Regions from separate parts of the Homo sapiens genome. Here region 1 is linked to region 2. Evidence: fine-mapped expression QTL. A gene starts in region 2. The other region holds a variant in brackets. All regions are shown on one strand. Distances are between the middles of the regions.

Region 1 (4,310 bases), 22 kb after region 2:
AGAATCCCCGCTGGAATAAGGTCATCCACTGCACGGTGCCCCCAGGCGTGGACTCTTTCTATCTCGAGATCTTCGATGAGGTGAGAGGGACGTGCCAGCTATTATGGAGGCTGCACGTGGCTGAGCGTGGCTGCCGTGGGGACACACCTGCCAACACAGCCACGTTCCTGGCTGGCTTCGAGGCGTGGCTCCCCACCTGGTGTTTCATTGGGTGCATGACAGGGTCCTGCTCTCCCCAAGGAATGTGAAAAAGGGATTGTTTCCAGCTCCTTGAACATACTTACATTTGGAAACATCCCCAGTGACAAGCATGACCCAGGGATACAGCGTGCACGTGTCCCCTCCGCTGGGCGCACAGGGTCTGGCCGCTCACCAGCAGGTGGGATTTCCAGGGACAGAGCGTGCACGTGTCCCCTCCGCTGGGCACTGATCTGGCCGCTCACCAGCAGGTGGGATTTCCAGGGACAGAGCATGCATGTGTCCCCCGCCACTGGGCACTCGTCTGGCCGCTCACCAGCAGGTGGGATTTCCAGGGACAGAGCATGCATGTGTCCGCCCCGCTGGGCGCACAGGGTCTTGCCGCACACCAGCAGGTGGGATTTCCAGGGACAGAGTGTGCACGTGTCCACTGGGCACTCGTCTGGCCGCTCACCAGCAGGTGGGATTTCCAGGGACAGAGCGTGCATGTGTCCGCCCCGCTGGGCGCACAGGGTCCGGCCGCTCACCAGCAGGTGGGATTTCCAGAGAGTGCGGCTGCCTACTGGGTGGGAAAGCTGTTCTTGGTGGTGCGAATGGTCGTGACCCTTGAGGGTCCTGAGTCCCGTCCGTGGCTGCACCTGCAGCGCTTCTGAGGCAGAGTCAGAAGGTCAGAGGGGATGTGGCGAGGCTGCTGCTCAGTGTGGTCCTGGCACCTCGCACCTGTGGCATTGTGAGGCTAGAGACTGGGTGGGGGCCGGGGAGCAGTGTGGGGCAGCCAGGCCAGCAGACGGCCAGCCCTCCCTGCCTGGGCCCTGCCTTTTCCTCCCGGCTTTTCTCTCCCCGTCCCTACCTGCTTTCCCCTCCCTGGCCCTCAGAAGAGTAGAGAGCGCATGGGAAGTGCAGAGTCAGCTGTGGGAGGCAGACCCCGTGTCCTTTCCAGTCTGCACCCCGGCTGCTCTGGGGCTTGACAGGTGGCAGCCGGTGGAGCAAGGATGGGGCCCCGAGGGCTGGGGAGGAGCAGCCAGTGTCCCTGAAGTGGAACTGAAGGAGGACAGCAGCCCAGGGCCCTCGCTTTCCCCAGCCCCAGACCTGGCCCTGGCCCTGGCCCTGGCCCATCCTGGTGGAGAGAGGGAAGAAGTCCCCTACGGAGGCTGATATACGATCGTGAAGCCTGCGCTGCCCGAGGGGTCTCATCGATGGGGTGTTGGTGCAGGTGGGAGCCCTGTTCCACAGATAAGACGGGGACTCGAGGCGGGCCCACGATGGTGCGGCTGCAGGGGCAGGGTGGCCCCTTCCCTGATGCCTGGGGCCTCTCCCTCTTGTCTCCCGCAGAGAGCCTTCTCCATGGACGACCGCATTGCCTGGACCCACATCACCATCCCGGAGTCCCTGAGGCAGGGCAAGGTGGAGGACAAGTGGTACAGCCTGAGCGGGAGGCAGGGGGACGACAAGGAGGGCATGATCAACCTCGTCATGTCCTACGCGGTGAGCTGCACGCCTGGGCGGGGTGGGGCGCATTGGGGTATGTTGGAGCACGTCGGGGCTATGCCGCCCCACAGACACCCTTGTCTCTTTCCTGGAGGCACTGAGCCCATAAAACAGCAGGGCTCACGTTCTGAGGACAGAGGGCAGGGGCCCTGGGTGGTTTGGTGGCAGAGAGGGGCTGCCCTGCCCACTGCTCCTGCCCATGTTCTCTGTCTGGGGAAACAGCATAGGGGTTGTTTGTGTTCCTAAGATGAGCCAACCCTTTGTGGTGGTCTCCACTGCAGGCCCCTGTGTCCTCGGAGGACCCCCACAGCCCTTCCAAGCTCTGCCCTTAGGGTCCAGCTGAGCAGCCCTCCAGGGTCTGAGATACAGCCCTGGGCCCTGCAGGACACCAGGCTCCTCCCCA[C/A]AGGGCAGGCATTGGCCGTGGTGTGGCAGGGCATCTCTGGAGATGTCGGGGAAGCCTGGGGGCTGCTGTGCTCAGGGTCAGGAAGTCGAGGCCTGGCTGTGGGGCCAGCACGTCAGCGCCCTGGCTCCCAGCCATCTCCATTCTCAGGGCACCTGCAGCTCCTGGGGGCATCAGGAGGGCCAGTTAGAGGCTCCAAGACGCAGAGCTCCTGCCGTCTCGTCTGTATCATCAACCAGAGGATTTTCAGGCTGTTACTGAAAAATGGTGCTGTGGGAAATGCCAGGCAGATGTGACAGCAGAGAGGGTGCAGCAGAGAGGGTGCAGCAGGGAGGGTGCAGCAGGGAGGCTGCAGCAGAGAGGGTGCGGCAGGGAGGCTGCGGCGGGGAGGGTGCGGCGGGGAGGCTGCGGCGGGGAGGCTGCGGCAGGGAGGGTGCGGCGGGGAGGCTGCGGCGGGGAGGGTGCGGCGGGGAGGCTGCGGCGGGGAGGCTGCGGCAGAGAGGGTGCAGCGGGGAGGCTGCGGCGGGGAGGCTGCGGCGGGGAGGGTGCGGCGGGGAGGCTGCGGCGGGGAGGGTGCGGCGGGGAGGCTGCGGCGGGGAGGCTGCGGCGGGGAGGGTGCGGCGGGGAGGCTGCGGCGGGGAGGGTGCGGCGGGGAGGCTGCGGCGGGGAGGCTGCGGCGGTGAGGCTGCGGCGGGGAGGCTGCGGCGGGGAGGCTGCGGCGGGGAGGGTGCGGCGGGGAGGGTGCGGCGGGGAGGCTGCGGCGGGGAGGGTGCGGCGGGGAGGCTGCGGCGGGGAGGGTGCGGCGGGGAGGCTGCGGCGGGGAGGCAGCAGCAGGGAGCTGCTTTTCTGGGCCATCTTGGCTCCTCCCACCCCCTTTTTGTTAAAGCTGGGATATTTTAAATCATGTCCCGGCCGTGAGTGACGATGTGTAAATGTCTCATGACACGTCTTTAACAGACGCTTTCATACAAACACAGAACCATCATGACGCTCCAGTGATTTTACCTGCAGTTGACAGTTTCGAACTCAGAGACGACAGTGGTGCAGTGACTTATCCGCAGTTGACAGTTTCGAACTCAGAAGACAGCGGTGCAGTGACTTATCCACAGCTGACAGTTTTGAACTCAGAGACGGCAGCGGTGCAGTGACTTATCCGCAGCTGACAGTTTTGAACTCAGAGGCGACAGTGGTGCAGTGACTTATCCGCAGCTGACAGTTTCGAACTCAGAGACAACCGCGGTGCAGTGACTTATCCACAGTTGACAGTTTTGAACTCAGAGACAACAGCAGTGCAGTGACTTATCCGCAGTGGACAGTTTTGAACTCAGGAGACAGCAGTGCAGTGACTTATCTGCAGTGGACAGTTTTGAACTAAACTCAGAGACGACAGCAGTGCAGTGACTTATCCACGGTTGACAGTTTTGAACTCAGAGACAACAGCAGTGCAATGACTTATCCGCAGTGGACAGTTTTGAACTCAGGAGACAGCAGTGCAGTGACTTATCCACAGTGGACAGTTTTGAACTAAACTTAGAGATGACAGCGGTGCAGTGACTTATCCACAGTTGACAGTTTTGAACTCAGGAGACAGCAGTGCAGTGACTTATCCGCAGTGGACAGTTTTGAACTAAACTCAGAGACGACAGCGGTGCAGTGACTTATCCGCAGTTGACAGTTTTGAACTCAGAGGTGACAGTGGTGCAGTGACTTATCCACAGTGGACAGTTTTGAACTCAGAGTTGACAGCAGTGCAGTGACTTATGTGAAGTTGACACTTTCAAACTCAGACACCACAGCAGTGCAGTGTGGTTCCCCCCAGGCCGACTCGACACCTACACTGGGATGTCCCTCCTGTCACCATCCTCTCTCAGTCACATCCCAGTTAGAAGGGGGTCTGTAAGCCCGAGCCATGTCACCTCCTGGATTTGAGGAGGTGGTGCAGGGGTGGGAGCAGGGCCCAGCGTCCCCTGTGCACTCAGGGCTCGTGTAGCGAGGGTGATTCTGGGCTGGCATGGGGAGGGCGATTCTGGGCTGGCGTGGGGAGGGCAATTGTGGGGAGGGCGATTCCCGAGGTTCTGATGGGTGGATGTTCCTCCTTGACCCCGGGACCATCTCCGCTGTGTTTCAGCTGCTTCCAGCTGCCATGGTGATGCCACCCCAGCCCGTGGTCCTGATGCCAACAGTGTACCAGCAGGGCGTTGGCTATGTGCCCATCACAGGTGCG
Region 2 (4,375 bases):
CTGGCTTATTCTTGGGTCTTACGAGGCTATAATTAAGTTGTCAGCTGGGTTGCATTCTCATCTGGAGGCTTGACTGGGGAAGGATCAAAGCCCCCTCAGATTCCTGGCAGAATTTGTTTCCTTGAAGTTGTAGGAATTATGGCACCTCGCCTCTTCAAAGCCAGCAGCTGAGAGACCCTTGAGAATAAGTCTGAGAGCAAGATGGAGTCTTTTATAACATCAGGTAATCATGGGAGGGACATCCCATCACCACTGCCATATTCTGTTGTTTAAAAGCAAGCCACAGGCTCTGTCCACCCTCAAGACAAGAGGATTATTCAAGGATGTGAACACCAGGAGGCAGGGATCATATGTCTACCTTACAACCTGTCCACCCCATAGGGGAATAATATTAAGGCAAGAGCTGAATCTAGTGTTTAGCGGAGGTCCTGGTGGGAGATACAGATTTTAGGATCATCAGCATATGGATGGCATTTAAAGGAATGGAACTGGATGAGCTCACTGAGGATGTAGATAGAAAAGATGTGCAAGGACTGAGCCCTGAGGTAAGGCACTCCGATGTTAAGGAGTCAAAGTGTTACCAGTGTGCCCTGGCATCTTGTAATCTCCCAGGATAGAAATAAAGAGAGATCAGCAGACATAGCAGCGAGGAGAAAGAGAAATCTTTATTTAGCTTGTGCACAAGGAAGTCAGCACCATGAAAGGAAAACGGTGGGGGGCCCCGCCGCCAGGGGGTGGCACGTGGGTTAGTTTCACAGGGAAGGGATTGGTCCAGGCATGGATAGGAGGGGTTTGTCTAGTGCTTCTCAGTAGCTTTGCATGCTTCTTCATGCATTGCATGCAACATTCACATTTTAAATCTCTACCCCTAGGTGTGATTTTTAGCGTGAAAATGAGGAAGGGGTAACAATAGTTGAAGTATAAGTCTAACTGCACATGTGGGGCCCGGGGAAGTCCCTAGGCCCCCAAAGCAGGAACTTGTGGTTAATAGCTTCTTGGGTCTTGTGCTGTGGATTGGCTGGATGTTAAGCTACAACTTGAGGAAGGGGCTTTCGTTCTTTTTCTCTACACCCCATCAAAACAGGCAAGCGGCCAGGCTGCCGGTTTTAAAAGGAGAGACTGGTAACCGAGACCCAAAGATGTGGTCTTTGGGATAAGAGGAAAGTGAGAGCACATGGTGTCCTGGATGGGGAGTGAAGAAAGCATGTGTAGCAAGAATGACTATCGATTTTGCTGTAGTTCCCGGAGGACGAGGACTGAGAACTGACCACTAACAATATAGAGATCACTGACAAAGAGTTTTTAGTGGAGTGGTTGTGTTACCGGAAAAGGGTCCTGATCCAGACCCCAAAAGAGGATTCGTGGATCTTGTGGAAGAAAGAATTCCAGGCCAGTCCACAGAGTAAAGTGAAAGCAAGTTTATTAAGGCAGTGAAGGAATAAAAGAATGGCTACTCCATAGAGCAGGGTGTTCCCAAAAGCACGAGGAGGAAGGCGTCCACCTGGGTACGCTTGTTTATATGTAAGATAAAAGCCAAAAAACATCACGGGGGAGACGTGCTGTACTACCTGGGCTCGTCAAAGGATTGCCAATCTTTGCATAACGCCTGTCCTCCGCAAGCATCTGTATCATTATCTTTAAAGCGAAACTTCAACTAAGAATGCTTCTTGTTCTTAAGATACCCGGACATCGGGACCTAAGTTCCGGGTCTGCTGCGTAAAAGTTTATTAACCTGTTCCCGTGACCGTAAACGCCCGACTCCTGGGGATGCAGCCAGCGGGGTTCAGCCTCAGTTTACCCAGCGCTGTTCGAGCTGGAGTCGCTCTGGTTGGAGCGCCTGACCGCGAGGGCCGAGGTCAGGCCGGACTGGGGTTCTCCGGAGCGAGCAGGAGAGGAGCGGGGCTCCTGCGGAGCGGCGCGGCGGGGAGGCCGAGGGCAGGGCGGGCTCGAGCTCGGGCTCTTCTGGCAGCGCCTCCATCCCCGTTCCGTTCACCCGGCAGCCGCCCCGTGGAGGAACCGCGCCCCATCTTTAGCCCTGTGAAACAGAAAGGCCCTTCCTCCGGCAGGCAGCTGAGGGAAAGATCGCCCTGCAGGGGATGTCGGGCCTGTCACTGCTTTGTTGCGGGCCACAGTTCCCTCCCTTCTCCGAGCGGGTCGCACGTCCGAAGGTCACCCCCGCCAGGTGGCTAGGCCCTGTCGCCACTCGACAGAGGACCGAGGAGGAACCAACCCACTGCCCAGACTGCAGCGCCGCCACGCTAGGGCCCGCGCCGACAACCGTCATGACTGGGCATGCGCAAACGGCCCCGCCGGGAGCCATTTCGCCGGGCTGCAGGGCTCGAGGAGAGAGCAGGTGCGCAGGCGCCGGGCGAGAGGCTGCGCCTGCCCTACCCTGGAGCGCGCGTGCGCGCGAGAGCCGGAAGGGGCGGTGCCTGGCGCGGCGCCTGCGCAGTGGGGCGGTGCCGGGGGCGGGGCGCGGCGGCTGTCAGCTGACTGTGGCGGCGGCGGCCTCGAGGTGACAACTGTCTCCGTCGCAGGCTCCGGCGGGGGCGCAGGAGGTCGCCCGGCGCGTCACTGTCGGGTCGGCGAGCCACGGGGGCCGCCGCAGCACCATGGCGACCACCGTCAGCACTCAGCGCGGGCCGGTGAGGCAGCCGGGCGAGGGTCGGGCGGGGGCGGTGACCTGCGGTTGCGGGCGGGGCCTTGGGTCAGGGCTACTGCTCAGCTGCGGCTGGCGGGCCGACTCCGCGGCTCTCCCGGGGCACGCGGGGCGCCTGGCCGGCCGGAGGGGAGCGGCGGCGTCCACACCTCGGGGCGGGGCGGGCCGGACGGACGCGCCCACGCTGCAGGAGGCTTGAGCTCACCGCCGTGCCGGGGCAGAGCTTTGGGGAGGCAGCCCCGGGGGAGGGGGCCTGCGCCCGTTGTGAGCCCCAGATGGAGGCGGGCCCCGTGCCCCATGGTGCCCCAGAGGGAGGCAGGCCCCGCTCCCCAATGGTCTCCAGATGGAGGAGGGCCCGGTGCCCAGATGGAGGCGGCCCCGAGCTCTGACTCCCGAATGGAGGAGGGCCCCGCACCCTAATGGTCCCCCAGGTGGAGGCGGGCCCTGAACCCTAATGGTCCCCTAGATGGATGCGGGCCCTGCTCCCTGATGGCCCCCCAGGTGGAGGCGGGTCCCGCACCCTGATGGCACCCTAGATGGAGGCGGGCCCCGCACCCTGATGGCCCCCCCAGGTGGAGGCGGGTCCCGCACCCTGATGGCCCCCCAGGTGGAGGCGGGCCTGCACTCTAGTTGGTCCCATAGATGATGGCTGTTTCCTCTTTCTCATTTACACAGAGTGAGGGCAGTGGTGACCACTTCTTGGGCCCAATTGTGTCCCCGGTTAGTGGCCACCGTGCAAAACCTCAGTTTCTTCATTTGCAAATGAGAGGATAGGCGCCAGGAACTTCAGAGAACCTTTCCTGCTCTGAATTCTCTCCTGAGAGTTGCCTGGCAGTTTCTTCTATAGCATTAATATTGCAGGAGAGCTGGTGTAGACTGACTCAGAGATGATGGGCTCCTGGCGTGAGTGGCCTCCTGGCTCACTGTTAGGGCCTTCTTGCATTGCTGTAAAGGAATACCGAGACTGGGTAATTTGTAAGAAAAGAGATTTAATTGGCTCCCGGTTCTGCAGGCTGTACAGGTAGCATGGTGCCGGCATCTGCTCCTGGGGAGGCCTCTGGAAGCTCCCAGTCATGGCGGAAGGCCAAGTGGGAGCTTACACGTCACATGGCGAAAGCAGCAAGAGAGTTGGGGGTGGGGAGGTGCCACACACTGTAATGACCAGATCTTGTGAGAACTCACTATCACCGGGACAGCACCAAGCCACGAGGGATCTGTCCCTGTGACCCACACACCCACCCTGCCAGGCCCCACCTCCAACATTGGGGATCATAATTCAGCGTGAGATTTGGCGGGGACACAGATTCAAACCGTGTCACTCACTGAGGCTGGGCTGGGGCAGGCTGTCGTGAGCGGTACAGTTTTTATCAACAGTGGCTCTGAACATGCCGTGGGTGGAAAAAGTCCTTTTTCACGATGCTCCAAGGTCCCTGCCCTCGCGCAGCCCAGTACTGGACGTGGTGGAGGGGTCACCAGGGCTCCCCACCCTTAACACTGTATCCACAAGTCCTGGTGTTTCTCCCGAGGAGATAATTCTTCAGGTAGAACATTTTTTCTGAGTTTAGAATGAAGCCCCAGGTTTTGGGCATAGCTGCTTTTTCTGAGGACTTTGAAGGAAACCTCCTGACACTTATGAGACTCAGGTGTGGAGCCTACGGGTCGGCAGAGGTCCTGGACGGCCTCTGATGGCAGCGTCTCTACCTCTTCATCTTTACT

Direction of the effects. Alleles are on the strand shown, and positions count from the first base shown. SD is a standard deviation of normalised expression in the study named.
With allele A in place of C in region 1, the expression in testis of the gene that starts at base 2,403 in region 2 is lower (moderate effect, 0.41 SD a copy in GTEx).

The links.
Region 1: its variant is fine-mapped to the expression of TOLLIP-DT in testis (GTEx, PIP 0.98).

Annotation. Positions count from the first base shown.
Region 1 is chr11:1,285,997-1,290,306 of GRCh38, reverse strand. It overlaps TOLLIP (toll interacting protein), which reads left to right. Exons shown (of 6, transcript NM_019009.4): 3 at 1-80; 4 at 1,531-1,683; 5 at 4,215-4,305. Among named protein-coding and RNA genes, the nearest start is that of TOLLIP, 21 kb to the left of the region's middle. The variant C/A (reference allele first, on the strand shown) is at 2,090.
Region 2 is chr11:1,307,736-1,312,110 of GRCh38, reverse strand. It overlaps TOLLIP-DT (TOLLIP divergent transcript), which reads right to left and starts at 2,403. Exons shown (of 1, transcript NR_029409.1): 1 at 1,404-2,403. It overlaps TOLLIP (toll interacting protein), which reads left to right and starts at 2,479. Exons shown (of 6, transcript NM_019009.4): 1 at 2,479-2,645. The coding sequence starts at 2,613. RefSeq lists silencers at 659-788, 2,314-3,023 and an enhancer at 1,322-2,083.